4 linked regions of the Homo sapiens genome follow. The protein of the gene in region 4 purifies or fractionates together with the protein of the main gene of each other region. This does not show direct contact. Each region holds a gene or a part of one and is shown on either strand. Other genes may lie near its edges. The genes, in order: EEF2K, AKAP12, ZC3H7A and HSPA12B.

The links.
Region 1: the proteins of HSPA12B (region 4) and EEF2K purify together in Homo sapiens (affinity purification with mass spectrometry; 3 studies listed by BioGRID and IntAct, with this or other methods). This does not show direct contact.
Region 2: the proteins of HSPA12B (region 4) and AKAP12 purify together in Homo sapiens (co-immunoprecipitation; 2 studies listed by BioGRID and IntAct, with this or other methods). This does not show direct contact.
Region 3: the proteins of HSPA12B (region 4) and ZC3H7A purify together in Homo sapiens (co-immunoprecipitation; 2 studies listed by BioGRID and IntAct, with this or other methods). This does not show direct contact.

What each region holds. Positions count from the first base shown.
Region 1 is NC_000016.10:22,251,260-22,258,284, forward strand, and holds part of EEF2K (eukaryotic elongation factor 2 kinase), read left to right. Parts: coding exon 1-63; intron 64-5,488; coding exon 5,489-5,638; intron 5,639-5,993; coding exon 5,994-6,126; intron 6,127-6,383; coding exon 6,384-6,511; intron 6,512-7,025. UniProt on the Homo sapiens protein: Threonine kinase that regulates protein synthesis by controlling the rate of peptide chain elongation.
Region 2 is NC_000006.12:151,235,976-151,242,969, forward strand, and holds the start of AKAP12 (A-kinase anchor protein 12), read left to right. Parts: upstream 1-3,991; 5' UTR 3,992-4,084; intron 4,085-4,408; 5' UTR 4,409-4,587; coding exon 4,588-4,749; intron 4,750-6,994. UniProt on the Homo sapiens protein: Anchoring protein that mediates the subcellular compartmentation of protein kinase A (PKA) and protein kinase C (PKC).
Region 3 is NC_000016.10:11,773,256-11,780,280, forward strand, and holds part of ZC3H7A (zinc finger CCCH domain-containing protein 7A), read right to left. Parts: intron 6,109-7,025; coding exon 5,911-6,108; intron 3,655-5,910; coding exon 3,496-3,654; intron 3,278-3,495; coding exon 3,197-3,277; intron 3,104-3,196; coding exon 3,065-3,103; intron 2,699-3,064; exon of another isoform or gene 2,152-2,698; intron 1,759-2,151; coding exon 1,725-1,758; intron 1,265-1,724; coding exon 981-1,264; intron 1-980. UniProt on the Homo sapiens protein: May be a specific regulator of miRNA biogenesis. Binds to microRNAs MIR7-1, MIR16-2 and MIR29A hairpins recognizing the 3'-ATA(A/T)-5' motif in the apical loop.
Region 4 is NC_000020.11:3,735,660-3,742,684, forward strand, and holds part of HSPA12B (heat shock 70 kDa protein 12B), read left to right. Parts: intron 1-608; exon of another isoform or gene 609-681; coding exon of another isoform or gene 682-684; intron 685-731; exon of another isoform or gene 732-773; intron 774-2,998; coding exon of another isoform or gene 2,999-3,015; coding exon 3,016-3,058; intron 3,059-5,155; coding exon 5,156-5,253; intron 5,254-6,624; coding exon 6,625-6,749; intron 6,750-7,025.

The sequences.
Region 1 (7,025 bases), on a different chromosome or scaffold from region 4:
CGTCTACAGATGGAGGCCAAGCTCTGGGGGGAGGAGTATAATCGGCACAAGCCCCCCAAGCAGGTGCGTGGCCCCACTACCTGCCCCCTTTCCATGCCAGGGCAGCTGGGCACAGTGTCTGGGAAAGAGGGCCATGGTGAATCCCTATTTCACCTTCTTTTTTTTTTTTTTTGAGATGAAGTCTTGCTCTGTCACCCACCACCAAGGCTGGAGTGCAGTGGCATGATCTTGGCTCACTGCAACCTCCATCTCCCAGGTTCAAGCGATTCTCCTGCCTCAGCCACCCCAGTAGCTGGGATTACATACAGGTGCCTGCCACCACATCTGGCTAATTTTTGTATTTTTAGTAGAGATGTGGTTTCACCATGTTGGCCAGGCTGGTCTCGAACTCCTGACCTCAAGTGATCTGCCTGCCTTGGCCTCCCAAAGTGCTGGGATTACAGGTGTGAGCCACCATACCTGGCCTCTTTCACCTTCTTAATAGTAGCTAATAACAACCACTGTTTACTGAGCATGATGAACCAAGTCATTTATTTTATTTTTATTTTTTTTGAGACAGGATCTTTCTTGGTTGCCCAGGCCAGAGTGCAGTGGCATAATTACAGCTCACTGCAGCCTCAACCTCCTGGGCTTGAACAATCCTCCCAGCTTGGCCTCCTGAGTAGCTGGGACTACAGGGGTATGCCACCATGCCTAGCTAATTTTTGTATTTTCTGTAGAGAAAGGGTTTTGCCATGTTGCCCAGGCTGGTTTCAAACTCCTGGCCTCAAGCAATCCATCCACCTCGGCCTCCCAAAGGGCTGGGATTACAGGCGTGAGCCATTGCACTTGTTCCAGAGTCATTTATTCCTAAAAACAGAGCTCTGAGGTCGGAATGTTTTTATCCTCAATTACAGATGGGATCTATTAGTCAGGATTTTTGTTTGCAAATGACAGAAACCCACTCAAACTGCTTAATCCGAAAAGGGAATTCATTGCCTTATGTAACTGAAAAATAATGCTGCCACAGGCACGGCTGGATGCAGGATTAAACTGAGGTTGTCAGAATCTTCCTCCATCTCTGGCCTGGGTGTTCTTCTGGGTTGGCGTCATTCTCAGGCAGCCTCTGCACTAGTGGTAGCACTCTGGCCCCCAGCAGGCCCAAGTTCTTGTTGGAATGACAAAACCTATTTCCCCAGAAGTTCCAATAAAAGTCCCAGAGCTGCGTTTCATTGGCTCTGATTAAGTCAGATCCCTATTGCCGAGCCAATCACAGTGGCCAAGGGGCAGGAATATGCAGATTGGGCACACCCTAGCCATGTGCCTGCCCTTAGAGCTAGGAATGTAGGTGTTCCACCCAGACCACAGGGACTGAGACTGGAAAAGGTGAGATTCCCAAGAAAAAGCGGAAGAAAGAGCTGGGAATGTATATTAGTCCGTTTTCACACTTCTGATAAAGACATACCCAAGACTGGGTAATTTATAAAAGAAAAAGAGGTTTAATGGACAGATAGTTCCATGTGGCTGGGGAGGCCTCACAATCATGGCAGAAGGCAAAAGGCACATCTTACCTGGTGGCAGACAAGAGAGATTGAGGACCAAGCAAAGGGGGTTTCCCCTTATAAAACCATCAGATCTCGTGAGACTTATTCACTATCATGAGAACAGTATGGGGGAAACCACCCCCATGATTCAATTATCTCCTACCAGGTCCCTCCCACAACACGTGGGAATTATGGGAGCTACAATTCAAGATGAGCTTTGAGTGGGGACACAGCCAAACCATATCATAGTGGATACTATGTCTGCTCTTTGGGAAACCCTGGGCTCAAAGAGGCTAAATGACTTCCCCAACCAGGCAGAGCTGTAGCCAGGTCTCAAATGCAGGCTTTTCAACCCCCTGCTAGGTTGGCACCTTCATTTGAGCCCCTAGGGTGATGAGTGACTGAGGCCAAGCAGAATTCCCTGTTGCCTTTCGGCATTTGAGGAAGGATCCATGCCTCTGCCCTGCATGAGCCCACAGCTGAGATCTTCCACAGCTTGAGCATCTACTACATACAACGCACAGTCTCCTGGGTGTGCAGAATTTATTGAGCACCTGCTGTTTGCAGAGCCCTTGATGAAGCATACTTGAGGCAGGCGCAAGAAGCCACAGTCCCCACCCTGGGGGGCTGTGGCTTCCTCTGCAATTTGCGGCCTTCCAGCCTGGCCTCCTTTCTCTTCCTCCACAAGCTTGTTCCTGCCCCAAAACCTTGGCCCTGGCTGTGGGCTTGGCGGGCATCTTGTGTCACCGTAATTCTTGCATGGCTAGCTACTTCTTATAGTTCAGGTCTCAGATCCTGTGTCACCTCCTCAGCCAGCCCATCTCAGACAACCCTAAGAAGTGGTCCCTCTGCCCCAGTCACCTCTGTCACATCATTCTAACTTTTTTTTTTTTTCCTGTTCTTTGGAGCAGTTAGTATGTCATTCATTTAGTTAATATTTTAGGTGCTTCTCTCCCCTAAAGGCAGAGATTTTATTTTATCATGTTCACTGCTGTCTCCTAGTGCCTAGGTGTCCAGTAAATAATACTGTGGTAGGCCTGGCACAGTGGCTCATGCCTGTAATCCCAGCACTTTGGGAGGCTGAAGTGGGCGGATCACCTGAGGTCAGGAGTTCGAGACCAGCCTGGCCAACATGGTGAAACCCCCGCCTCTACTAAAAATACAAAATTAGCTGGGCATGGTGGTGCACGCCTGTAATCCCAGCTACTTGGGAGGCTGAGGCAGGAGAATCACTTGAACACGAGAGGCGGAGGCTGCAGTGAGCCGAGATTGGGCTACTGCACTCCGGCCTGGGTGACAGAGCAAGACTCCATCCCCAAATAGTAGTAGTAGTAGTAGTAGTAACAATAATAATAATAATAATAATAATGTGGTTGACTTAAGGGAGGGAGAGAGACGTGGTTGTTTGAGAAGGTGCTGGTTGTCCACTGTGGCTGTACCACTGCCCCTCGCCCAGGGAGCCCTCTGGCCCAGCAGGTGGCCCTGCTGTAAGTTTCCTTGTAGGGATGGGACCAGCCTTTGGGCAGAACCCTCTGAGAACCGCCGCTCCCTGCCTTCCCCTCAGGCCGGTTCTCAGAACCCATTGAAGCCTTGTTTGGGGCAAGTTCTCACCTCTCAGATCAGGACCCCTTCGGCCTCTGCATCTGTTGTCTGCATGTCTGGTGACCCACTCTCCATGGATGGTCGTTTCCTTGGGAAACCTGGACCTAATCCTCCCAGGAGGTGGCATTGAGGAGGACATGGGAACCAAGGATGAGTCCTTGTGTAACAGGGCAAGAGGTGCAAGCTAGAGTCCCTAATCTCCCCTACTCCACTTTACAAACCATATGCACTATTTATACATTTTCTTCTGTGTACAAAATTAAACATAGACTTTATAAAAACAAAAAAAATTCGGCAAGGAATGTCAAAGTTCCCTATAATTTCCCATTGCAGGGAGAAAACTGCTGTTTAGAGGTTGGTTTATATTTCTCTAGAATTGTAGCTCCTGATAAAAATGAGTTGCCAGGCACAGTGGCTCATGCTTGTAATCTCAGCACTTTGGAAAGCCCGGGGTGGGGGGGCGGATCACTTGAGGTCAGGAGTTCAAGACCAGCCTGGCCAACATGGTAAAACCCATCTCTACTAAAAATACAAAAATTAGGCAGGCATGGAGGCGGGTGCCTGTAGTCCCAGCTACTCAAGAGGCTGAGGCAGAGGAATTGCTTGAACCTGGGAGGCAGAGGTTGCAGTGAGCCAAGATCGTGCCACTGCAGTCCAGCCTGGGCAACAGCCTGGGCAATAAAATATAAAATAAAATGAAAGCAAACATTGCCTGGCTCCTTTTTGCATCAATAAGTTTAATTCACAGACTGAGCCTGAGACCCTCTTTATGCAGGTAAAGAAACTGAGGCACAGAGAGGTGAAATTCAGAAATGTTCCCAAATTCACAGTTTTACTGTAAGGCATAGTCTAAGTTGCTTAGCAAACAGACCCACAAAATATGTGTGGACACGAAATGGTTTCTTTTTCACTTGTGTGGAGGTCTTGCATTGGTGGGTGGCTTGGGGTAGGCTTGTTTGTGCCTCATCTCCTTGAAGCCATCTAGAGAACTCGTTCCTTTGGTCTTTTTTCTCTGCCATCCCCTCAGGGGTTTGCCATGGACCACATAATCAATTCTGGCTCCCAAGCAGAGTCCACCTTACAGGGCAGGCTGGAGTTACATCATTGCAATGCTCACTTCCCATTGGCTGGGCACAGTCATGTGGCCACACTTAGCTGCAAGGGAAGCTTAGCAATGTCATCCCTAGTGGGTGGCTGTGTACCCTTTTAAAACTCAAAGGAAAACAGAGCTGAGCACAGTGGCTGCAGCTTGTCATCCTAATGCTCTGGGAGGATGCTGGAAGACAAGAGGATTGCTTGAGGCCAGTTCTTGAGGCCAGTTCAAGACCAGCCTAGGCAACATAGTGAGACCTCGTCTCTATAAAAAAATTTAGATATGAGCCATGTGTAGTGACACACGCCTGTAGTCCTAGCTTCTCGGGAGGCTGAGGTGGGAGGATCACTTGAGCCCAGAAGTATGAGGCTGTAATGAGCCATGATTATGACACTGCACTCCAGCCTGGGCGACAGAGTGAGACCCTGTCTCTAAAATAAATTTTTTTTTTTTTAAGACGGAGTCTCACTCTGTCATCCAGGCTGGAGTGCAGTGACATGATCTTGGCTCACTGCAACCTCTGCCTCCTGGGTTAAAGTGATACTCCTGCCTCGACACCCTGAGTAGCTGGGATTTTTGGTACGCACAAGCACGCCCAGCTAATTTTTGTATTTTTATTTTATTAATTTTTTTTTTGAGACGGAGTTTTGCTCTTGTTGCTCAGGGCTGGAGTGCAGTGGTGCAATCTTGGCTCACTGCAACCTCTGCCTCCCAGGTTCAAGTGATTCTCCTGCCTCAGCCTCCAGAGTAGCTGGGATTACAGGCATGTGCCACCATGCCTGGCTAATTTTGTATTTTTGGTAGAGACAGGGTTTCACCATGTTGGCCACGGTTGGTCTCCAACTCCTGGCCTCAGGTGATCCACACACCTTGGCCTCCCAAAGGGCTGGGATTACAGGTGTGAGCCACCATGCCCAGCCTTAATTTTTGTATTTTTAGTAGAGGCAGGATTTCACCATGTTGGCCAGGCTGGTCTCGAACTCCTAACCTCAACTGATTCACCTGCCTCAGCCTCCCAAAGTGCTGGGATTACAGATGTAAGCCACCGTGCCCAGCCTAAAAATATATTTTTTTTAATTTTAAAAAAATTAAAGGAAAAGAGGAGATTAGATTCTGGGCATCATCAGGAGCTCCTACAATAGAGAGCTAGTAAGTCATGGAGCCAGGGTCTGAGCCCAGGCAGGCGAGTTCCTCTGAGCCCTCCCCTTGCCGCTTCTCAGAGGAGGTGCGCCTGGGCCCTCCCGCCTGAGCCCACTCCCCATCCCACCAGGTGGACATCATGCAGATGTGCATCATCGAGCTGAAGGACAGACCGGGCAAGCCCCTCTTCCACCTGGAGCACTACATCGAGGGCAAGTACATCAAGTACAACTCCAACTCTGGCTTTGTCCGCGATGACAACATCCGCCTGACGCCGCAGGTGAGGCCGAGCTCACCTCCACCCTCTGCCCACCACAGCCCTTGGGGTGAGATCCTGGCCAGGCTCAGCCCCTAAAGAGGAAGGTCCCTGTGGGCTTGGAGTCTCACCCCCAGAGAAGCCTCTTGGAGCATTCAGAAGGAGACCCGTCACCCCATGACAGCTTCTGTCACCTAAGGTGGCCACAGGACCTGCAGCCCAAGGTCCCTGCCCAACTGAAGAGGCCTTTTTCCTTTGTCTTTTCCTCTATATAACTCCTTGAAGAGAAAGCCCCTCAGCATGGGCAGAGGCGTGGCCAGTGCCTGCACAGACCTCAGCCTGTCTCTTGACATCTCGTTTTCCTTCCTGTCCCCTGTAGGCCTTCAGCCACTTCACTTTTGAGCGTTCCGGCCATCAGCTGATAGTGGTGGACATCCAGGGAGTTGGGGATCTCTACACTGACCCACAGATCCACACGGAGACGGGCACTGACTTTGGAGACGGCAACCTAGGTACGTGGGGAAAGCCAGCCTGTTTCTGCAGAAACCACGCTCCCTGCTAAAACCTCTGAGTTCTTCGTACAGCCAAGGAAACAGGCTGAGACACTGTACGCGCTTTTTCAAGATCATGGAGATGGGAGCCTGGATGTCTGATGCCTCCCAGCTTGGCACGTTTTATACCTGCCCTGGCCATATGTATGAGGCCCACCACTGCCTGTCCCCCGTCACAGAGCAAAGCAACACTCCAGACACCCCCGCTCTGTCCACAGGTGTCCGCGGGATGGCGCTCTTCTTCTACTCTCATGCCTGCAACCGGATTTGCGAGAGCATGGGCCTTGCTCCCTTTGACCTCTCGCCCCGGGAGAGGGATGCAGTGAATCAGAACACCAAGCTGCTGGTGGGTGCCCAGTGTGACCCTGCTTGGCCTGGCAGGCCCTTCTGCTACTTGCAAAGCAAGCCCTGCTCCCCTGTGTGGTGACAGCCAGGTCAAGCAGTGCTTAACTGATGAATACCAGGGCTGGAAGCATCTGTCCCATCCATGCCCCAGCCCGTCCCCTCCAGCTCAGTGCACAAAGCCCTCCTGAGCGTCCTTCCAATCGAGCAGCTGGTATCTGCTTAGGTTGGGCCCATTTTTTACCAGAGTGAGGGGAACAGGCACGTGGAGATAGTGAGAAGGCATGTGGTGTGTGTGTGTGTTTGTGTGATGTATTGACAAATGACTGAACTAGTCTTAGACCTGGCTCTCCAGGCACCTCACCAACATACCTCCCATCCTCCCATTGCTACTTGGACCAGGGACAAGAGAATGTTGCAAAGACCAGCTTGGGATGCTGGACATAGAGTGGAATGCTTTCTCCAGCTCTGGGCTGTGGAATGTGGTCAGTGCTTTAGGGGATACTGGCAGGTCCTCT
Region 2 (6,994 bases), on a different chromosome or scaffold from region 4:
TACGTGATGTATGTCTACAAGCGGCTGAGCTTTAAACTTCATCTGTAAATTGAACATTTTCTGTAGCTTCCATATGAATTTTAGATTATTAAGTACTCATGAATTGAATACAACTGTTAATTCTTCTAGTTTATAATTAGCAAATTATAATTAATGCTCTAAAATAATCCGTCTCAAATCCTCACATAGAAAGTAAAATTCAAATAATTTACTCACAGTTTCTTCCATAGACTTCTCAACAGGGTAATAACATTATTCTTGGTTATTTATTTTCCAGGCCATGTAAATGTTAATATTCTTATTTGTAAAAAGTAAAATCATATCTTAAGAGATGCATGCGCACATTCTAGTACTCTCTATTCTGCCTGAAACAGCTCTGTGATAAGGGAGTATTAAGAATAACAAATTCACACGAGCACAAGATAGAGTGGGAATTAGGTTCTTAGATGACTGGATATCTCTGTGGGAACAACTGGTTTAGAAAGAAGTAGGTGTTTTATCCAGGGAAAACAAAGAAGTTATAATCAAGAGAGAAGCAGTTTCAAAGGTGAAGGTGAAGAGTTGCCAGTCTCAGCGAAGGCTTTGTAACTAGAGAATGAATCTTTAGGGTAGAGTTAACGGTAGATTTTAAACTGTTTTAATAATTAAAATTATTATTGCACTTTGAAGGGGGTGTCTGAACTCAGTTGTAAAATGTTTGACATTTGTGAATTCCTTTAATGTTATATTTGAAACTGTTTTGGTGCATGCACAAGGTGCCCAACTATGACTCTACATTTTATTGTTAAACCTCATGTGACCCGTCTTTCTGGAGAAGTATGTGTGCGAAGTACAGGTTCAGCCTGCTACACAGGCAACATGTATTTGTTTTTGAGAAATCTCAAACTGTGTTTATGAGAGAATTAACCCTCTCAGGGAAACAGCTCTACCAACGACTGCCCCATGGGAGAGGATGTGTGGGGACACCTGCATCCTGCTATTTGGAGAAAAATTGAGCTGCTGGTGAGACATTGAACCAACAGCCTTGGACTGAGAAGTGAAAAATAGAGAACACCTGCCTCCCCTCTACTCTGATGCCAATCCAAGCAATTCCGAAGGCATCTTGGAAGCCCTAGAAAAGAAAACCTCAGTGACTCGATTTAGAACCTTGGAAACTAGAGTGGTAACTTTGTGCTTGGCACATAATAGGTACTTGATAGAAATTTATTGAAAGAAAGAAAGAGAAGAAGGAAAGAAAGAAAAAGAAAGAAAGAACAGAGAAGAAGGAAAGAAAGAAAAAGAAAGAAAGAAAGAAAAGTAAAAAAAGTAACAAACTTTGTAGCATTCTGAAGCACTAAGTGGCATACCCAAAAGGTTGGGCTATTTCATCGCTAGAGGTCATTAATAACACAACCACTTTTCTTTTCTTCTCTTTTTTTTTTTTGAGACAGGGTCTCACTATGTCATCCAGGCTGCAGTCTGGAACTCCTGGGCTCAAGTGATCCTCCCGCCTCAGCCTCCCAAGTAGCTAGGACTACAGGCATGCACCACCACTCCTGGCTAAATTTTTTTTTATTTTTTGTAGAGATGGGAGTTTCACTGTGTTGCCCAGGCTGGTCTTGAACCCCTGGTGTCAAGCAATCCTTCCACTTCAACCTCCCAAAGTGCTGGGATTACAGGCGTGAGCCACCGCGCCCAGCGCAATGATTTTACTTTTTACAAATAAGAGTATGAACATTTACATGGCCTGGAAAATAAACAAAAAGCAAGTAACTGCTAATCTAAGCAGATGCTGATATCTTCCTCAGCACGTAGGTTGTACACTGTTGGCTTGACCCTGCAATCCTTTCTGAAAATTTAAAGGGTAGTAGATGTGAAAAGCTTTGCTAAGAATTTCCCAGGAACAAAGTAAATATAATCTCACAGAATGTGAAAATGTTGATAGTATTTGTGCTACTTACTGATACATTTTCAAATGTGCTGACGTTAATCATTCTCAAATAGTTTTTTTTTTCTTCTTCTTTTTTTTTTTTTGGGACGGAGTCTTAATCTGTCATCCAGGCTGGCGTGCAATGGCATGATCTCAGCTCACTGCAACCTCCACCTCCCAGGTTCAAGCAGTTCTCGTGTCTTGGCCTCCTGAGTAGCTGGGATTACAGACACGCGCCACCATGCCTGGCTAATTTTTGTACTTTTAGTAGAGACGGGGTTTCACCATGTTGCCCAGGCTGGTCTTGAACTACTGTCCTCAGGTGATCCACCCACCTCGGCCTCCCAAAGTGCTGGGATTACAGGTGTAAGCCACCACACCTGGCCTCAAGTAGGTTTTAACAGTGCTTTTTGCTCTTAAAATCCTAAGTGAGGTCCAAATGCCACGTTTCAGTAACACCTCTGAGAGGAGAGAACACAGTTGATTGAAAGGGAAGGGGAGTGCCATGCGGTGGTGAAGCGTGGACCCTGAAAGCAGATGCCAGTTGGACTTCCTGCTCTTCCAACTCCTGGCTGTGAAACCTGAAGCACACAATTTAATTTCTCCGGGCCTACTCCTCCCCCTCCTGCCAATGGTAAAATGAGAATAATACTATCTATCCCATGGGGTTATTGTAAAGATTATTATGTAAAGTGCATTGAACAGTGCCTGGTACAGAGTAAGAATTCTAATGTTTCCTAAATAGTCAAAATTTAAGTCAAAATGGGGGAAATGTGTATAAATTCCTAAAACTAAGCATTTTGCAAATATACTGTTTCTTAAGAGATAAACTCCAGAGAAATTGGCCTTCGTGTAGTCCTTTAAATAAAAATAATTAATTCAGAAAACAGGCCCAGTGTGGTGGTTCACACCTATAATCCCAGCACTTTGAGAGGCCAAGGCAGGAGGATCGCTTGAGCTCAGGAGTTCAACACTAGCCTGGGCAACACAGCGAGACCTTGTCTCAAAAAAAGAAAAAGAAAAAAAATTAATTCAGAAAACAAATTTGATGGTGAGTAACTAACCTATGGTTCCCAGGGTACCATTCGATTCATGCAATTCATTAGGCATGAAACATCCTAGTGCTGAACTACTGCTTACACCCTTTCTACAAAATTGTACTAAATCTGAGTATGAGATATTTATCTGGAATTTGGTGTGAATATTCCGAAAGTTTCTTCCTTCTTTCTTTCTTTTTTTTTTTTGACAGAATCTTGCTCTGTCGACTAGGATGGAGTGCAGAGGCACAGTCATAGCTCACTGCAGCCTCGAATTCCTGGGCTGAAGTCATCCTTCTACCCCAGCGTCCCCAGCCTCCTGAGTAGCTAGGACTACAGGTGCACCACTGCGCCTGGCTAATTTTTTTATTTTTTGTAGAGACAAGGTCTCGCTATGTTAACCAGGCTGGTTTCTTCATTCTTAATGGAGATTCAAAGTATTTGTGAAAACTGGGGCACTCGGTTGCTAGTTACAACTGGAATAAATTTTGTCTTTCAGCCCCAAAGCCTTAATGCTTTGCGCCAAGCAATCCAGCTACAAATTTAATTTAGTTCAAATACTTATTGATTGGCTGCCATGCTCATGTAATACATATTATATTCAAGGGTCGGAAATGAAAGGATGCAAGCCACTTGTGCTGGTATTATTTAAAGTCTTCATCTTTTGAGAAAGGCTGACGGCAAAGGAACAGATCTATGCTGTCATGTGTCGGCATCGCGCGGAGCAGAGGTGGCCTGGATGGGTAACTTCCAGCACAGGCCCTCAAAGAAGGACGGGCACATTTCCGGTAACAGCCTCATTTCCCCCCGTTCCCCGGGGGAAGGGGGGCGGCTAGCACTGCTGATGGCATCGCCTGACATCACTTGTTCCGGAGGATAGGAGAGCGTGGGCCTGCGTGGCCCACCTCATCCGTGGCCTGACTGCGTTAACCTCTCGGTTCCCTGCTCTTGCCACGTGAGGTGCCCAAATATGGTCGGACTCAGGAGGAGCCAGGGAGCGCTTGCCTTTCTCCTGCTAATGGGGAGGAGGCTGGAACAAATGTTTGGAGTTAAACACAATCTGCAGGAAAGCAAATGGGGACTCGGACTCGCTCCTGGGCGAGCTGAAAGTCGGCTGCAGCAGAAGCTCCTGCCTTGGGTGATCCATCATTTAATAAACCCCAGAGAATCCAGTGTCCCCGGCAGGCTTTTTGCTCCCCTGCTCTCTTGCCTTCTGAGGCCCTGGGTCGTCCCCGCAGCTCTAGTCGCCCTGTTAGAAACGGGAGGCGCCCGAGGGCCGGGTGGGCGGCTGCCTGGACCTGGGCTGGCGCGTCGCAGCGCCTCTGGTCCCGGCAGCCTGGGGGCAGATGCTGCTGCAGGGCGTGTCTGGGGCTGTGCTCATGTGATGAAGCGAGGGAAAAACCGGGGGGAGGGGGGCGGAGGCTAAGAGGTGGCCTTTTTTTTTTTTTCCTTTTCTTTTAAGGAGTTTGCCGCGAGCGCGTCTCCTTCATTCGCAGGCTGGGCGCGTTCGCAGTCGGCTGGCGGCGAAGGAAGGCGCTCTCGGGACCTCGCGGGCGCGCGTCTTTTGGCTCTTGCCCCTGTCCCTGCGGCTTGGGGAAGGCGTAACCCGGCGGCTAGGCGCGGGAGAAGTGCGGAGGAGCCATGGGCGCCGGGAGCTCCACCGAGCAGCGCAGCCCGGAGCAGCCGCCCGAGGGGAGCTCCACGCCGGCTGAGCCCGAGCCCAGCGGCGGCGGCCCCTCGGCCGAGGCGGCGCCAGACACCACCGCGGACCCCGCCATCGCTGCCTCGGACCCCGCCACCAAGGTACGGGCGTGCCGGGCCACCTGCGCCGGGAGGCGCGGGTCTTTGGGGGTGGGGGTGGGGGTGGGGGGGTCCCTCCGATTTCCGCCGAGAGAACTTCCCAGCCCATCCAGCCGCATCTGCAAACTCAGGAGTGCGAACCCCTCTTTGGAGGCTTTTCAGGGTCTTTCGCGCCGGGGCGGGGCCAGAGCAGCGGCGAGCGCGGCGGGGGGCTTGCATCTTTGTCGCGGGTCTCCAGGGGAGGCGACTGCGCCATGCGCAATAATAAAACCCGCGCCCTGCCCACGGCGGCTGAGCCTTTCTGCGCACTCTTCCGGTGGGAGCCATGCAGCCCGAGGCGGAGGAGCTGCGCGGAGGGGGATCCGTGGAGAATGGACCCCGGGCCGGGCCTCCGGAGCTCCGAGATGCGGAAAGTCAGCTGTGAGGCCAGGACTCGTGGTGGAGCCCGCCGGGGAGCCCAGCCACCCTCGGGTTCCCCGTCGCGTACCGCCCTGGATGCCAGCGGTGCCTGGAGCGAGCGGGTTTGGTACCCAGTCCTCCTGCGGCAGCGGCCCGAGCAGGCACCGCCTTCCCGAGGCAGAGAAAGCCTGGGGTGTAGCTCGCTCAGAGCCAGGAAAAACCTGGGCAGGCGCTGCGTTTCCAGAAGGAATGACAGGTTTCGCAAACCAGCCAGCGCCCTCGCGTTCGCTCAGCGCTTTGCCTGCAGACTCAGTTGGCCAAACACACGCTAGAGTGGCTAGAAGTTCTCAAAGGATGGGGTCAGTGTAACGAGCATTCCGGGTACTCTTCCCTGGACGCAGTGCTGAAACGACTGCATTTTATCGGCTTCAGTCTTCAAGGCTGGAATATTTCTTGTGGGCCAGGACAGCCGCCAAGACTGTGGCTTGTTCTGGTCGTGGTATTTTAGATCTATTTTCCAGCGCATGTGTTCATTAGCAAGGCTTCACTCTACTGATTTTGTGATACCCTTGTATCACAAAGGTACCCTTGTGATACCTTGTAGAAAGATGTGGATAACCATGTTTAATAGTTAAATTTGCGGTATGTCAAATTTGAGGATAGAGTACGTGAGTTATCGCAGGAGGTGTAGATGTTTACAATATGCAAAAAAAAAAAAAAAAAGGAACCTACAACCATGACCTAATTGCCTTGACCTCCTTAGCTGCCCTAGTCTCTTTTGGGCTGAGAGACTGCTGTTAATAATATAGTTTTTACCGCCAGTCTTTGATTCATAACTACTTGTAAAATCCATGGTCCCTAGATATTAAGTACTAACTGTGTCTCTGTGCTATGTAGGTTTTTCTAAGAGATGCTTAAGCTTCTGGCCTGAGGAATGTACTGTCCTTTTGAGATTCAAGTCGCATTTTAATACTTACTGTATGCACATAATGTTTTGATGCCAGCTACTGTCAAAGTGGCTCTGTAACCAGTGGTCAGAGTCTAGCGATGAAAATAATTTTAAGGTATAATTGCTAAAAACTTGCAGTTGGGTGACATTCCCCCCACCGCCCCGGCTTTTATACTCCTTCAGATCTTACTAACTGTTCACCCTGAAATATGGGATTTAATCCCTTCCCAGTAAACTTGAATTTGTTTATTTAAAAATATTCCTTCCATTCTCTTTTTCCGTCTTCCATAACCTTATCCTTTTCCTCTTTCCAAGTTGCCAACCGTCTTGAAGCAACCAAACAACCTCCTTTTAAAAAATCACTTAAATGACATCCAGAATATCATTGAACTTGTTGGCATAATGCCCAGTTATCAATTTGGAGACAAATCAGTGCACTTACATGTATCCTTGGAATGTATTTAGTTTTCATTTGAACTAGCCAAATTTATCACTCAGGCTTTGAACACAAATGTCTTTTCAAAAGGACTCCCCAATTAAGAATGACTCAGCACCATGGCCCTTGCCTCCCCTCTTCTTGTTAAGCTCCAATTCCTGACCTCCAAGTAATCCCATCTCCCACTCTAGGCTCCGTGGCACCATGGACCCGTCCCAGCAGTTTTCACATGTGTGGGTTTAGTGTTCTTGCTGTTGTGAATACTTCGCAGGGGCAGGGAACACGCCTGGTTGTGCCGACCAACGGTGTTCCTTCATGCGTGCCATGTTGCCTGGCACAGAGGCAGCTCTCAGGAATACTTGTGGAAAGAGGAAGGGGTGATATTGGCTCCTTGGTTTTGATTGGAAAATATCAAGTTGGAGAATACCTTGACCTATCTGATTTTACTACAATTTAACCCTTGA
Region 3 (7,025 bases), on a different chromosome or scaffold from region 4:
TGCAGCCTCAACCTCCTGGGCGCAAGTGATCCTCTACCCTCAGCCTTCCAAGCAGTGGGACCACAGGCACGCACCACTATGCCAGGCTGTTTTTAATTTTTTGTAGAGATGTGCCCTTGCTATGGTTACCCAGGCTAGTTTCATATAATCTCCATATGTCACAAAATATTATTCTCTTTTTTGTTCTTCTCTCAACCATTTAAGAATTGTAAAAAATATTCTTAGTTTGCAAGCCATACAAAAACAGGTAATAGGCCAGATTTAGCCTGTGGGCTACAGTTGGCTGAACCCCGCTTTAAAGTATGTGGTTGCTAGAGGATTATCTTTAAGAATAAGAAGTCCTGAGGCCGGGCATGGTAGCTCACGCTTGTAATCCCAGCACTTTGGGAGGCCGAGGCGGGTGGATCACGAGGTCAGGAGATCAAGACCATTCTGGCTAAGGCAGTGAAACCCCATCTTTACTAAAAATACAAAAAAATTAGCCAGGCGTGGTGGCGGGCGCCTGTAGTCCCAGCTACTCAGGAAGCTGAGGCAGGAGAATGGTGTGAACCCGGGAGGCGGAGCTTACAGTGAGCCAAGACTGCGCCACTGCACTCCAGCCTGGGCAACAGAGCAAGACTCCGTCTCAAAAAAAAATAAATAAATAAAAAGAATAAGAAGTCTTTAATCTATATAATTCATTTTTTCTTAAATATCAAACGCCTATTTTTTATCAGAATGTTATCTTTGCCCTTTCCATAATATGAGATCCCAATATGAATTGGAAAAAAATTGGCTAATTACTAGATAGCATTCTTTTTTTATTTCAAAATGATCAAATTAACCAGTTTCAGTAGAGAAGAAAAAAAGTAACTTTCAAGGTTAAAAAAACCCCCAAATTCAGCCTATATGCAATACTGAAAAAGTCTATCAAGTTATATTACAATTTTTAAAAAGTTAACTCTGTCTTCAGAAGAAACTTGAGTAACACTGAAACTTACCATAACAGTTTCATTAGTTTCAGGTGCAGAATCAAGCAGGTCATCTAGTTCATCTCCAAGGACCATATCTCCATCATCTAGAAAAGCTTCTGGCATAGTGAAGGGCATCTTTCCTCCATTTGCCAGCACTGCAGATGGCAGAGCGCTCTCTTCCACTTGTAGTGGCAAAATAGAAGTTAAGGGCATAACAGGAACTGAGGCCAGCTCACTTCCAACTTCATGAGAAAAACTGGGTGCCGGTAAAGAGACAACAGGAACTGCTTCTTGCCTTGGAGTTAATAAATCTGTAACACAGATGGAAATGTACTCAGTCACTTTCATCGTACTTACATAATAATACCATTAATCCCCAATAATAGAGATACAAAGATGAAAATATGAAGGCAATTATAAAAATAATAAAATTGACAGTATAGTAAAGCAATTCCAAACAGATACAGTCACGTGTGAAAACTTATCCTTCTTTCACAAAATGCCTGTATCTCTCTTTGGGCACAGCTATCAGACAGTGGCAAGGCCACAGTGGGTGTCAGTGATTGCTTACTAACATCCAACACTTTTCAGTCACTCACTGGCACATCCAAAGGCACAAAGGGAGCATTGGAAATCATTTTCACTTTCATATTAATACATTAATATGAATATAACCACACAGCGATATTATTTGACAATACATCACATACAAAGACATCAGGTACAAAGCTGGCACTATTCAAATTGTTAAGATGATATGTGAAAACATACCTGGCTCAATATCTTCCACAGAATGGTTCAAAGCCTAGAAATTAAACCAAACAATGGGTTATAATATTTTCAGGACTCTAAGCCATAAAACAATCAGTAAAACTCACCCTAGGCCGGGCACAGTGGCTCACGCCTGTAATCCCAGCACCTGGGGAGGCCGAGACAGGCAGATCACGAGGTCAGGAGTTTGAGACCAGCCTGGCCAACATGGTGAAACCCTGTCTCTACTAAAAATACAAAAATTAGCCAGGCATGGTGGCAGGCATCTGTAATCCCAGCTACTCAGGAGGCTGAGGCAAGAGAACTGCTTGAACCCGGGAGGTGGAGGCTGCAGTGAGCTGAGATAGCGCCACTGCACTCCAGCCTAGGTGACAGAGCGAGACTCTGTCTTGGAAAAAAAAAAAAAAGAAAAAAAGAAAAAACTCACCCTAAGAGAACAATGCAGGTTTCCACAGAAATTCAACTCCCAATTAAGATCCAAGAAATGAATGGAACACGCAAACCTGTATACATGTGGTGTTAGGTGAGGTGCTGGTCTAGCAGTGCTGCCACTTATTTCTCGTGGACCAGCATTTCTCAAAGGCTATTCAGCAGAATAACAGGGATGAATTTGGCCACCAATCATTGCCCAACTCACAATAGCCATTAGCATCCTATTAGCCCCAAGAAAATTTTAATTTTAAAATTAAAAACAAAAACAAAAAAAAACCCTTTGTTAATTTTATCACAAATGACTCCCAAAACTAGTATTTGGCCCTGAACCACTCTTATTGCACTGAAACCTAACATCTATTAACATCCTATAAAATGCCCCACTGGAGCATTCAGGAAATGCTGGTTACAGCTAAAATATATTACTTGAGTTGTAGATGTTCTTTTGTAAAGTGACTAGAAGAGGCCAGAAGAGATGGCTCACGCCTGTGATCCCAGCATTTGGTGGGAGGCCAAGGCAGGAGGAACACTTGAGCTCAGGAGTTTGAGGCCAGCCTGGGCAACATGGTGAAACCCCATCGCTACAAAAAATACAAAAATTTAACAGGCCATGGTGGTGTGTGCCTGTGGTCCCAGCTACTCGGGAGGCTGAGGTGGGAGGATCACTTGAGCCCAGGAGGTGGAGGTTGCAGTGAGCCAAGATCAGGACACTGCACTCCAGCCTGGGCAACAGAACAAGACTCTGTCTCAAAAAAATAAATAAAGTGACAGGAGGGTATTGCCAATTACGTGTTTGAGGAATTAAAAAGGTTCCAAAAATAAACACACACCAAAAATACTAAAAGTAGAATTGCTCCCATCCTTCCCTTTAAAAAAAAATATAATTTTGACAGAAAAAATAACTTTACCTTGGTAGCCCCATCCCCAGGAACTGATTTTAATGAGAGCTGAAATAAAATAAAGACACTAATTTAAAAACAGAACTGACTCCAAGTTCTAAAACAAAATGAAAACACCTTATGCAGAGAACTCCAGCTTACCTCAGCTCTGACATACGCTTTTCTTATTTTAAATCCCAATTTCTGAGCTAGTTCTTGAGTTAGTTTTATTACATGCTCATCCTGAAAAAAATAAGTATGTATAATTAACAGGGTTATATTTACTAATGGTGAAGAAGAATAGACAAAACAGGGAAGTTTCCCATCAAGACACCTGCTTCATTAGCATTTATACCCAACTGAAGCAGGTTGATGGATGACTGGAAAATTTAACTCTTTAAATGCCATTTATTATGATGTAAATGGTTACGATGTAAACAAATAAACTATAAATTCCATACCTGAGGCACTGCTAAGGAGCACTTTGCTACAGCATCGTAAGCCTTTTTGTATCTTCCTAAATCACTTAAAGCCTTAGATTTCCGATACAGAGCTTTGCAGTTACTGGCATTTAAACTGAGGACTATATTGCAGTCCTCCAAAACTTTATCATGGAAACCCTGGTGTGTAAGACCAAAGAATAAAGTCAGCAATCAAACAATTCATTTCTTGCACTGAGGCCTTCCTGTAATAAAAACAAATTAATACCCCATCCTATTACCCTCCCTCTAAACTCCAAGTTAGCAGTATTACTTTTATTTTTTAAATTATTTTATGAAATTTCAAATACAAAAAAGTAGAAAGAATATCATGAATACCCATGTACACACCATCCAGGTCAGACAAATGCTAATATTTGGTCAGAAAGTCCCCAGATCTTCAAGAAATAAAGCTTTCCAGACCTAACTGATGTCCCCATGTGTCCCTCTCCTATTCGCTCCTCTGTAGTTACCCTTTGCTGGAGCACATTAAGATGTCAAACAGAAACGTAACTCCAAACAGCTAACTGATAAGGAATATATTACCCAAAACAAAATAAATAAACAATGAATGCTCTTTAACAAAGAGCTAGGTGACAACACGGATATTTTTCTTAAATTCATGGTTATATTTTACCGAGTATCCACAGTGAAAATTAAAAGCACTTCAGGTTGGGCACAGTGCCTCACAGCTGTAGTCCCAGCACTTTGGGAGGCCGAGGTGGGTGGATCACCTGAGGTCAGGAGTTCGAGACCAGCCTGGCCAACATGGTAAAAACCCCATCTCTACTAAAAATACAAAAATTAGCCAGGCGTGGTGGCGGGTGCCTATAATCCCAGCACTCGGGAGGCTGAAGCAGGAAAATCACTTGAACCCAGGAGACAGAGGATACAGTAAGCCGAGATTGTGCCACTGCATTACAGCCTGGGCAACAGAGTGACACTCCATCTCAAAAATTTAAAAAAGGTGGCCAGGCGTGGTGGCTCATGCCTGTAATCCCAGCACTTTGGGAGGCTGAGGCGGGCAGATCACCTGAGGTCAGGAGTTCGAGACCAGCCTGACCGACATGGAGACACCCCGTCTCTACTAAAAATACAAAATTAGCCAGGTGTGGTGGTACATGCCTGTAATCTCAGCTACTCGGGAAGCTGAGGCAGGAGAATCTCTTGAACCCGGGAGACGGAGGTTACGGTGAGCCAAGATTGTGCCATTGCACTCCAGCCTGGGCAACAAGAGTGAAACTCTTGTCTCAAAAAAAAAAAAAAAAGTTTTAAAAGGAAAAAAAGAAAAAAAAGCACTTCAAAAGCTTTTAAGCTTAAAAATGTGAAAATCTAGTGTGAATTCCTTTGAAGACTAATTACTATTTCTTGATTTAAAAAAACACTCGCCAGGCACGGTGGCTCACGCCTGTAATCCTAGCACTTTGGGAGGCTGAGGCGGGCAGATTGCCTGAATTCAGGAGATCGAGAACAGCCTGGGCAACACAGTGAAACCCCATCTCTAACAAAATACAAAAAATTTGCTGGGCACGGCGGCATGCGCCTGTAGTCCCAGCTACTCGGGAGGCCGAGGCAGGAAAATTGCTTGAACCCAGGAGGCGGAGGTTGCAGTGAGCCGAGATCGTGCCACTGCACTCCAGCCTGGGTGACAGAGCGAGACACTGTCTCAAAAAAAAAAAAAAAAAAAAAAACACTCGTAAGAGTGTTTTTTACCAAGAGTGTTTTACAAGATCAACTGGATCTTGACTAAGATGTTAACTGTGAACAGGGATACCTGAAAGACACACTGACCTGTGAAGACCTGTATCTTCCCTGGATGACTTTTTTATAAGCAGACACACCTTCAAAAGCCATACTCAAATGGGAATCATCAAGGACCAATAACTAAGAAACAAATTATTTCTTAAATCCCTAACCTTCTGTCCAAAGCTAATTTTTATTTTTTTATTTTATTTTATTTTTTGAGACGGAGTCTTGCTCTGTCGCCCAGGCTGGAGTGCAGTGGCACAATCTCGGCTCACTGCAAGCTTCGCCTCCTGGGTTCAAGCGATTCTCCTGCCTCAGCCTCCCGGGCAGCTGGGACTACATGCACACGCCACCATGCCCAGTTAATTTTTTTATTTTTAGTAGAGACGGGGTTTCACCATATTGGCCAGGCTGGTCTCAAACTCCTAACCTCATGATCCACCCACCTTGGCCTCCCAAAGTGCTGGGATTACAGGCGTGAGCCACCGTGCCCGGCCAATCCAAAGCTAATTTTTAAAAGCCTCAAGCCACTCCAAAAGCAGGTAATATGACTTTCTTAAAAACTTAAGAAATTGACTTTTTATTAATGTACTAAGTCATTGAAAAAATTCTTTTCACTCTAGAAACATCATTTTAAAAATTACAACTCACCATATTAGAATAGCAGGCAATACGATTTATATATAGTTTTTCAATTATTTCTTTGGGGATTAAAATTTCTTCAGATTTTGCATAATCAGCTATATTCAAGGCTTCCGTGTACTGGCTTATCGAGTTGTTCCAATCATGTTCCCGATAAACGTCATTTCCTTCATTAAAAAGATTTCTCACGAGAGCACGCAAATATACCTAAAAAAAAGAAAGTTACCACTTGAAGCCTTTTATCAAACAAGATATGGTATAAGTAAATTTTAATTTTTATACCTAAAACTTCACAGGAAACAATGTGACAGAACAGCAGCATTGCTCTAAGAAATTGTGAGATGCAGCCCAAGTCACTGCTATCTCAGCTAGGGATTGAATCTTGCTTGCTTTTTCAAGGGGAAATTCAATTTCTCACTATTAAGAAAAATGCAGCAAAGTACCTTATAAATATTTGTTCACATCTCCAATTCTGTGCCCGCTAGAGAAACCAAGTGGAAGCCCCAAGTCAAAGAGAATGAATAGTTTAAGGCTTTTGAGCAGTATTTCCAAATTGCCTTCCAAAAAGGCCATGATGAAAAATGTTTCTAGTGGTTTACTTTATAGCACCCATACACACTAGGTAGTGTGTGTGTGTGTACACGTGTGTGGGTACCCGTGCACATATATGTAAAATCTACCAATTTCTAGGTGGAAAATGGTATCGTTTTGTGTTTATTTATTTTTTTTAATGGTATCCTCTTTGTATGTGCATGTCTTTACCAGTGAAGTTGAACTATTCCACATTTTTACGGACCCCTTGTATTTCTTTTTCTGTAAATTGCTCAGGTCATTTACTGATTTGGGGGGAGGGGGATGTTAAACTTTTTTCTTATCAAGTAAGTATACACATTCTTTTAGCATGTATAAAAGTTTGTCATTTTCCTTCATTATTTCTATCACGCTTTAGTTTAGTTCTTTTTTTTCTTTTCTTTTTTTTTTTTGAGACAGAGTCTTACTCTGGCACCCAGGCTGGAGTGCAGTGGCACGATCTCGGCTCTCTGCGACTTCACCTCCTGAGTTCAAGTGATTCTCGTGTCTTAGCCTCCCGAGTAGCTGGGATTACAGGCACCTGCCACCACACT
Region 4 (7,025 bases):
TTCACCATGTTGGCCAGGCTGGTCTCGAATTCCTGACCTCAGGTGATCCACCTGCCTCAGCCTCTGAAAGTGCTGGGATTACAGGAGTGAGCCACGGCGCCCGGCCCAGAGTCTTTTTTTTCTGGTGGTTCTAGGTTGTTTCTCCTCCAGATACAATAGCCTCGGTCCAGAAAATCCATTCATTCATTCAACAAAGTGGTTCCCCAGTGCTTAGCACAGAGCCTGGCATGAAGAATCTCGATAAGTGTTTGCTGAAGAATCAGAACAACATACAAATAAGGCTGCCAGCTCCTCCCTCGAGACCTTGATCCAGTAGTATGCTGGTTAATGGTTTCCAATCAGCTCTGGAAGAAGGATAAAATCCTGATTTATGGTGTTTGCCAATTTCTGTCTTGTAAATACTCCCAGCCATGACTGATTTGAAGCTACCAATGTGATGTCATTGAATGCAGAATTGGGAAGAGATAGAAAGAATCAGCTCGCATGAGCTGGTGGGACCCAGCTCAGCATCCCACTCCATCATCCTGAGCTGGGCTCTGGGCTCCTGCCCCTGGCTCCTAAGAACCCTCCCCTCCCCCTCTCTGTGCTTTCCCTTTTCTCCTCAACAGCCAGCTGCTATATGCATGCCCACAACCAGCACCCATCCTTCTTCTGATTCTGATTCCTGAGCATCCAACTCCAATGGTACAGAGGACAGCAAGAGTGTCTGGAAATCTCCATGGTGCTGGCCATGCAGGAGAATCCTGGACATACAAGAGTGTGTGGGAGTCCAGGTGTCTGTCCACAATGGGGCTGGTTTGTGTGAACTGTGTGAGCAAGGGTGTGTGCATGTGTCTATGGGCATGCCAGAGCCAGCTCTGTGTCTGCCTGTGTTCTATAGCAAAACTTTCAGATTGGGCCGCTGGTGACAGAGAAGGAATGCATTGGCCCTGCGTAGCCTCCTCCTTTGTTTAGAGGAGCAGCCAGGCCCACCAATGAGAACATAGTGTCAGTGGTCTGCAGACTGGCTGAGAGACACTGTTGAGCAACACTTCTCAAACTTCAATGTGCACCTGAATCACCTGGGAATCTTGTTAAAATAGGCCAGACGCGGTGGCTTACGCCTGTAATCCCAGCACTTTGGGAGGCTGAGACGGGCGGATCACCTGAGGCCAGGAGTTCGAGACCAGCCTGGCCAATATGGTGAAACCCCGACTCTACTAAAAATACAAAAATTAGCCAGGCATTTTTAGGTGGCATTTTAGGCAAATTAGGTGGCGCATGCCTGTGGCCCCAGCTACTTGGGAGGCTGAGGCAGGATAATCACTTGAACCCAGGAGATGGAGATTGCAGTGAGCTGAGAACTGAGATCACGCCACTGCACTCCAGCCTGGGGGACAGAGTGAGACTCTGCCTCAAAAATAAATAAATAAATAAATAAATAAATAAATAAATAAATAAATAAATATGAAATACATGTTCTGATTCAGCAGGTCTGGGCTGGGGCCTGAGGTTCTGCATTTCTAACAAGCTTCCAGGTGATACCAATGCTGCTGATCCTCAGCCCACACTTTGAGTAACAAAGCTGTTGATGGTTTGAAATATCCTGCCTATAGCCTGGCCCCAGAACTTCATAGACAGGATCGAGCCCCTCCCATCTTAGAAAATAAATATTCTTCCTCACCTCCCTTCAGCTTTAGCGCCCTCCAACTACTGCCCTCACATGTATTCCTGATTTCAGCCAAGCTTTTCAGAAATTCTAGCTCAATATGATTGCGTCACTACACTCCAGCCTGGGCAACAGAGTGAAACTCCATCTTAAGAAAAGAAGTTCTAGCTCATGTCACCTCTTGCTCACTCCTCACCTAAGCTTACCTCCCTTGGGCCACTAAAACAGTGTTTCCAGTCTCATCTGGGGACCTTTTACAGGGATCTAGCTTTACCCATCTCTTGGTACAATCTTCATGAGACCATGAGGCATCTCAGTCTCCTGGGCCGGTATATATTCCTCTGTTCAGCCTTTAAATGTAGGTTCTCCTCGTGACAGAGTGACACCCTATCTCAAAACAAACAAACAACGAAGGCCAGGCACGGTGGCTCATGCCTGTAATCCCAGCACTTTGAGAGGCCGAGGTGGGCGGATCACCTGAGGTCAGGAGTTCGAGAACAGCCTGGCCAACACGGCGAAACCCCGTCTCTACTAAAAATACAAAAATTAGCTGGGCATGGAGGCACTCACCTGTAATCCCAGCTACTGAGGAGGCTGAGGTAGGAGAATGGCTTGAACCTGGGAGGCAGAGGTTGCAGTGAGCCAAGATCGTGCCACTGCATTCCAGCCTGGGCAACAGAGTGAGACCCTGTCTCAGAAAAAAGAAAAGACAAATTGAGTCATGCCCCCACCCCACCCTGCCACCTCAAACCTTTCAAGATTTGCTGTTGCCCTTCATATAAAATCAAATCTGAAATAGGGTGCACAGGCCCTGCCTGCAGGGTAAGCCCAGCCCAGCCCTCTGTCCAGACTTACCATGTCCTCTTCCCACCCCGCATTATCCAACTTTGACCTTCCTAGCACTCAGCAACGCTTGTCATTTCAAAATCACTTGCCTGATTATCTCCTCCATCAGACCGTTGGTTTCTAGGGCAGGGACAGTGTCTCTCTGGGTCACTATCTCCCAGCACCTGGCACAGAGCAGGCACCAGAAAACATTTAGGAGGATCCTGATTCCAAGAAAGTAAAGCCATTTTTTGACACAAGCTGGGAACTGTGGGACTTTAGATGAGATTTAAGGAATTACTGTTAATTTCATTAGACATGAGAATGGTGTTGCGATGACATTGTTTAAAACGTCTTTATCTGTTGGAGAGATGTATTAAAGAGTTCACGGGTGAAACAACATGATGGCTGGGATTTGCTTCAAAGGACTCCAGCCAAAAGTAAACAAATAAAATAAATAAGCATTCAGATGAGGGAACAAAGGGACAAATAAATCCCACTCTGCTTGTCTGTTCCTGTTGACAGCTACAGGGCCTGCAAGGATGTTGGCTGTCCCGGAGATGGGCCTGCAGGGGCTGTACATCGGTAAGAACCCCCACCATTCTGCCCTGACCCATCACCCACTCACCCGAGCAGGCACTGAGACCCACCTACAGGTTGTGCAATGTACCTCTCCCACAGAGCTTCCCAACAGCTCTTCTGTGAGTGAGTGTGTGTGTGTGTGTGCATGTGTGCAGGGCAGGTCTGTGTTTACTGGACCCCCCTGTGTGTGCAGAAAGGGTCTGTGTGCACCGGTCTGTGTATGTGAGTATGTGTGCACACAGGACTGGTCTATTCACAGGACCCTCATGTGTATATGAGTGTGGGCTGAGTGCGTGTGTTTGTGTGTGCCAGAAGGGTCTGTGCACACAGGAGTGTATGCATGTGCGTGTGTTTTGTTCAGGCTCTGTCCACAGGACCCTGTGTGAGTGTGTCAGTGAGTGTGTGTCTCTGCGGGCAGGTCTCTGTGCACGGGATCTGTGTACGGGAGTATAGTCTGCAGGTGGGCATGCATACAGAGAGTTCTGCGTGTGCATGGAGGGTCTGTGTGCACAGGAGTGTTTGAATGTCCATGTGTTTTGTTCAGGCCATGTGCACAGGACCCCGTGTGAGTGCATCAGTGAGTGTGTGTCTCTGCGGGCAGGTCTCTGTGCACAGGATCTGTGTACGGGAGTATAGTCTGCAGGTGGGCACGCATGCAGAGAGTTCTGCGTGTGCATGTGCGTCTGGCCATAGCCTGGTCTGGGAGCAGGCTTGGGTTCTCCGCAGGGGTGGGAGGCCGGAGGCAAGAGGGACACTCCTCAGGAAGTCCATTCACAAAGACCTGGTGGGCTGGGCCCTTCCTTCCTGCCTCCCTTCCCAAGCTCGAGCCACAGCAACTTGGCCTCTCGGGCTGCAGCTGGTGGCAGGGCTGGAGCCTGCCCTGGCTGCCTGAGGAGAGGGAGCCCTTGAAATGTGGCCACTTTTTCCCTGCCCCTCCAGCACCTCAGACTCTGGCCCTGTCCAGGCGCTTCCCAGAGTCCCCCTCATGCCTGGCCCTTCGCCTGTGTTCCCAGGTTACCCCCAAGGCCAGGGAGAGTGGAGACCTGCCTGGCAGCACGTGACAGGACTGTGGCTGAGGGAGCACAGGGCCTGCCTGGCTCAGCCTAAGGCGAGCCAGACCTGCCTGATTTGTCCATGGAGCTTCCTACCAGATCTCACTCTCCCTCCCTAGCCAGCCTCCCTGGCCTGTCCATGGATATCAAGGCTGCCCCAGTACTCCTCACATGCCCCTTAGCAATGCCCAGTGTGGTGGTGGCAGCTACCAGCCAGGCAGGCCCTCCTGCCCCATAAGCCGCCTGATCCTCGGGGCGAGGCCTGGGGCTGTCCTCCAGGGCTACTCCACTCCCTCCCACCAAAGGTCCAGCTCAGTCCCAGGCGTGCAAGAGGGTCTTGATGGGGCGTCCTGCCCTGAAATGCTGGCTCAGGGTGTGTGTATGTGTGTGTGTGGGGGGTGGGAATCAGACTTCCTAATGTTGTGGACACCCCCAGTTCAGGACTGGGCTATCTCTATGGGTGTGGGAGGAGGTGCTCCCCCTCCTCGATCCTCCTCAAGCAGCCAGCTGGGCCTGTCTGTGGCCCTTGTGGGCATGGGAGCTGCAGAGTTCCCTCAAGTCCTGATTAGAACCACGTGGCCCAACTTTAGGGTGGAGGGGAGCAACCCCACCTCCTAGCCAGTTAGCTCTGTAGCTCCACCTTTTGAAGGAGGAGGGCTTCTCTCTCCTCTACTCCCTCCCAGGAGCTCACCTGCCCTATCTCCCCTGCCCTTCCATCTCTGGACTGAGTCTCCCTGCCACACAATGCTTTTCTGTCTCTCTCCCCTCCCACACTGTGTGTCTGAGGGGCCCTAGTGGGGAGACAGTGAGCTCCTGGGGAAAGCATGGGTCATCTGCTAGGGAAACGTTGCCTCTGACAGCAGACCCTCAGCTCCTGCCCCTGCGTCATGTGTGTCTTTCCTACACCCCGCAGTCCTCCTCCCCAGCAGAGAGCCCTTTGCCTTAGCCCAGCAAGGACTGATGGAGAACCTTTGGGTGCCTGGCTTGGGGCCCCGCTGCCATACCTACCCTGCTTGTGCCAGGATGAACTGCCGTCTCTTCTCTGCAGGCTCCAGCCCGGAGCGGTCCCCAGTGCCTAGCCCACCCGGCTCCCCGAGGACCCAGGAAAGCTGCGGCATTGCCCCCCTCACACCCTCGCAGTCTCCAGTAAGCCCAGAGCAGGGACCAGGTGGTGGGTGACCTGGCTGGTGTGGACAGGGTCGTGCGTGGCAAAGTCATGACAGGGCCTCAGCTAGGAAGGAGGAGGGGATGGGGGTAGCACCATGCCTCTTGTCCCCGTACACTCCAGTCATGTGCCCCCCAGAAGGATTGGCCTTGGGTGACCCTGGACTATAAAGGGTAACAATTCTACTGAGAAGGCGAGCCCCATGTAACTAACTCCCAACCCCCCCACACAGGAGGCACCCACGGCCATTGAAGCTGGCCTGGCTGAGGCAAGTGTTCCCCTGAGCATGTGGCTTTTCTAGGTCCCCAGAGCACTGGGCCTCTTGTGGACCACAGCCCACCTTAATCCAAGTCATATCTGAAGGAGAGGAGATGTGTTGCCAAAAAAAAAAAAAAATAGTCTGGAAACCATTAGCTTGGGCTGGGCATGGTGGCTCATACCTGTAATCCCAGCACTTTGGGAGGCCGAGGTGGGCAGATTGCTTTGAGCTCAGGAGTTCAAGAACAGCCTGAGCAACACAGCGAAACCCCATCTCTACAAAAAATACAACAATTAGCTGGGCGTGGTGGTGCACACCTGTAATCCCAGCTACTCGGGAGGCTGAGGGTGGAGAATTGCTTGAACCTGGGAAGCGGAGGTTGCAGTTAGCCAAGATCGCACCACTGCATTTCAGCCTAGGTGACAGAGTGAGACCCTGTCTCAAATAAAAAGGAAACTACTAGCTTGAAGTATCCAGGACACCACCTCCCCACCCCCAAGCTCCCTGGGTCACCCCACCTGGATGACCTTGCCCTGGTGATCCAGCTTAGGGACCCCCTTATTCTTAGGGGAGTCCAGCCCTGGCATAGGAGAAGGCACACACTTCTCTGGGGACATGCACGTGCCCTCTCCTCTCTGCCACAGAATCAGACAGTCTGGTTTGTGTCACTATGGCCACAAAGAGCAAGAGGATAAAATATATACACTGGTCCATGTGCTGTAAAACTGCCTGGAGGAGCAAAATTGCTCCCAGCTGGGCCCAGACTAATGGCTGCCTATGAAGATGGTGTGAGGTGGGGGTGGGGCTAAGGCAGTCCAGAGGGAGGGTGGGCAGAGGCTGGAAGCAGGAAAGCAGGAGCTTGAGCCAAACCCTGCCTGGGGCTACCTGAGAGACACGTCCAAGGCTCAGCCTGGAGCCTGGGAGGGCAAGGGAGCCCGAGCAGGTGGGCAGGTGGGGTGGGCCAGGTCCAGGGCTGGTCTGGACCACAGTCAGTGGAGGGGAGTGTCTTCCCCATGCAGAGGAAGCATTGGGGCTGTGGGGGATGGGGGTGTCCCTGCTGGCTGCTTGCTAATTCTAAGTCTTGCACTTGCAGAAACCCGAGGTCCGAGCCCCCCAGCAGGCCTCCTTCTCTGTGGTGGTGGCCATTGACTTCGGCACCACGTCTAGTGGCTATGCTTTCAGCTTTGCCAGTGACCCTGAGGCCATCCACATGATGAGGTGAGGTCGGCTGGGCTGAGAGAGTGAGGTGGGGAAGGTGGGGAGTTCCTCATACCTTGGTCCCAAAAGTACTGTCACCGAGACATGGGGTCTCCTTGGAGGCCCTGCCACCCCCAGTCTGGGGCTCCCCACTGGGGTAAAAGTTGGAGGATGGGCCCCAGGCCTGGGTCCTTGGCCTCAACTGGAGCAGCTCCCAACCCTCTGTAGGAAAAGTCAGACTTTGTTTTTAATTTTGAATTTTTTTGAGATATAACAAACATAACAATAAAATATGCA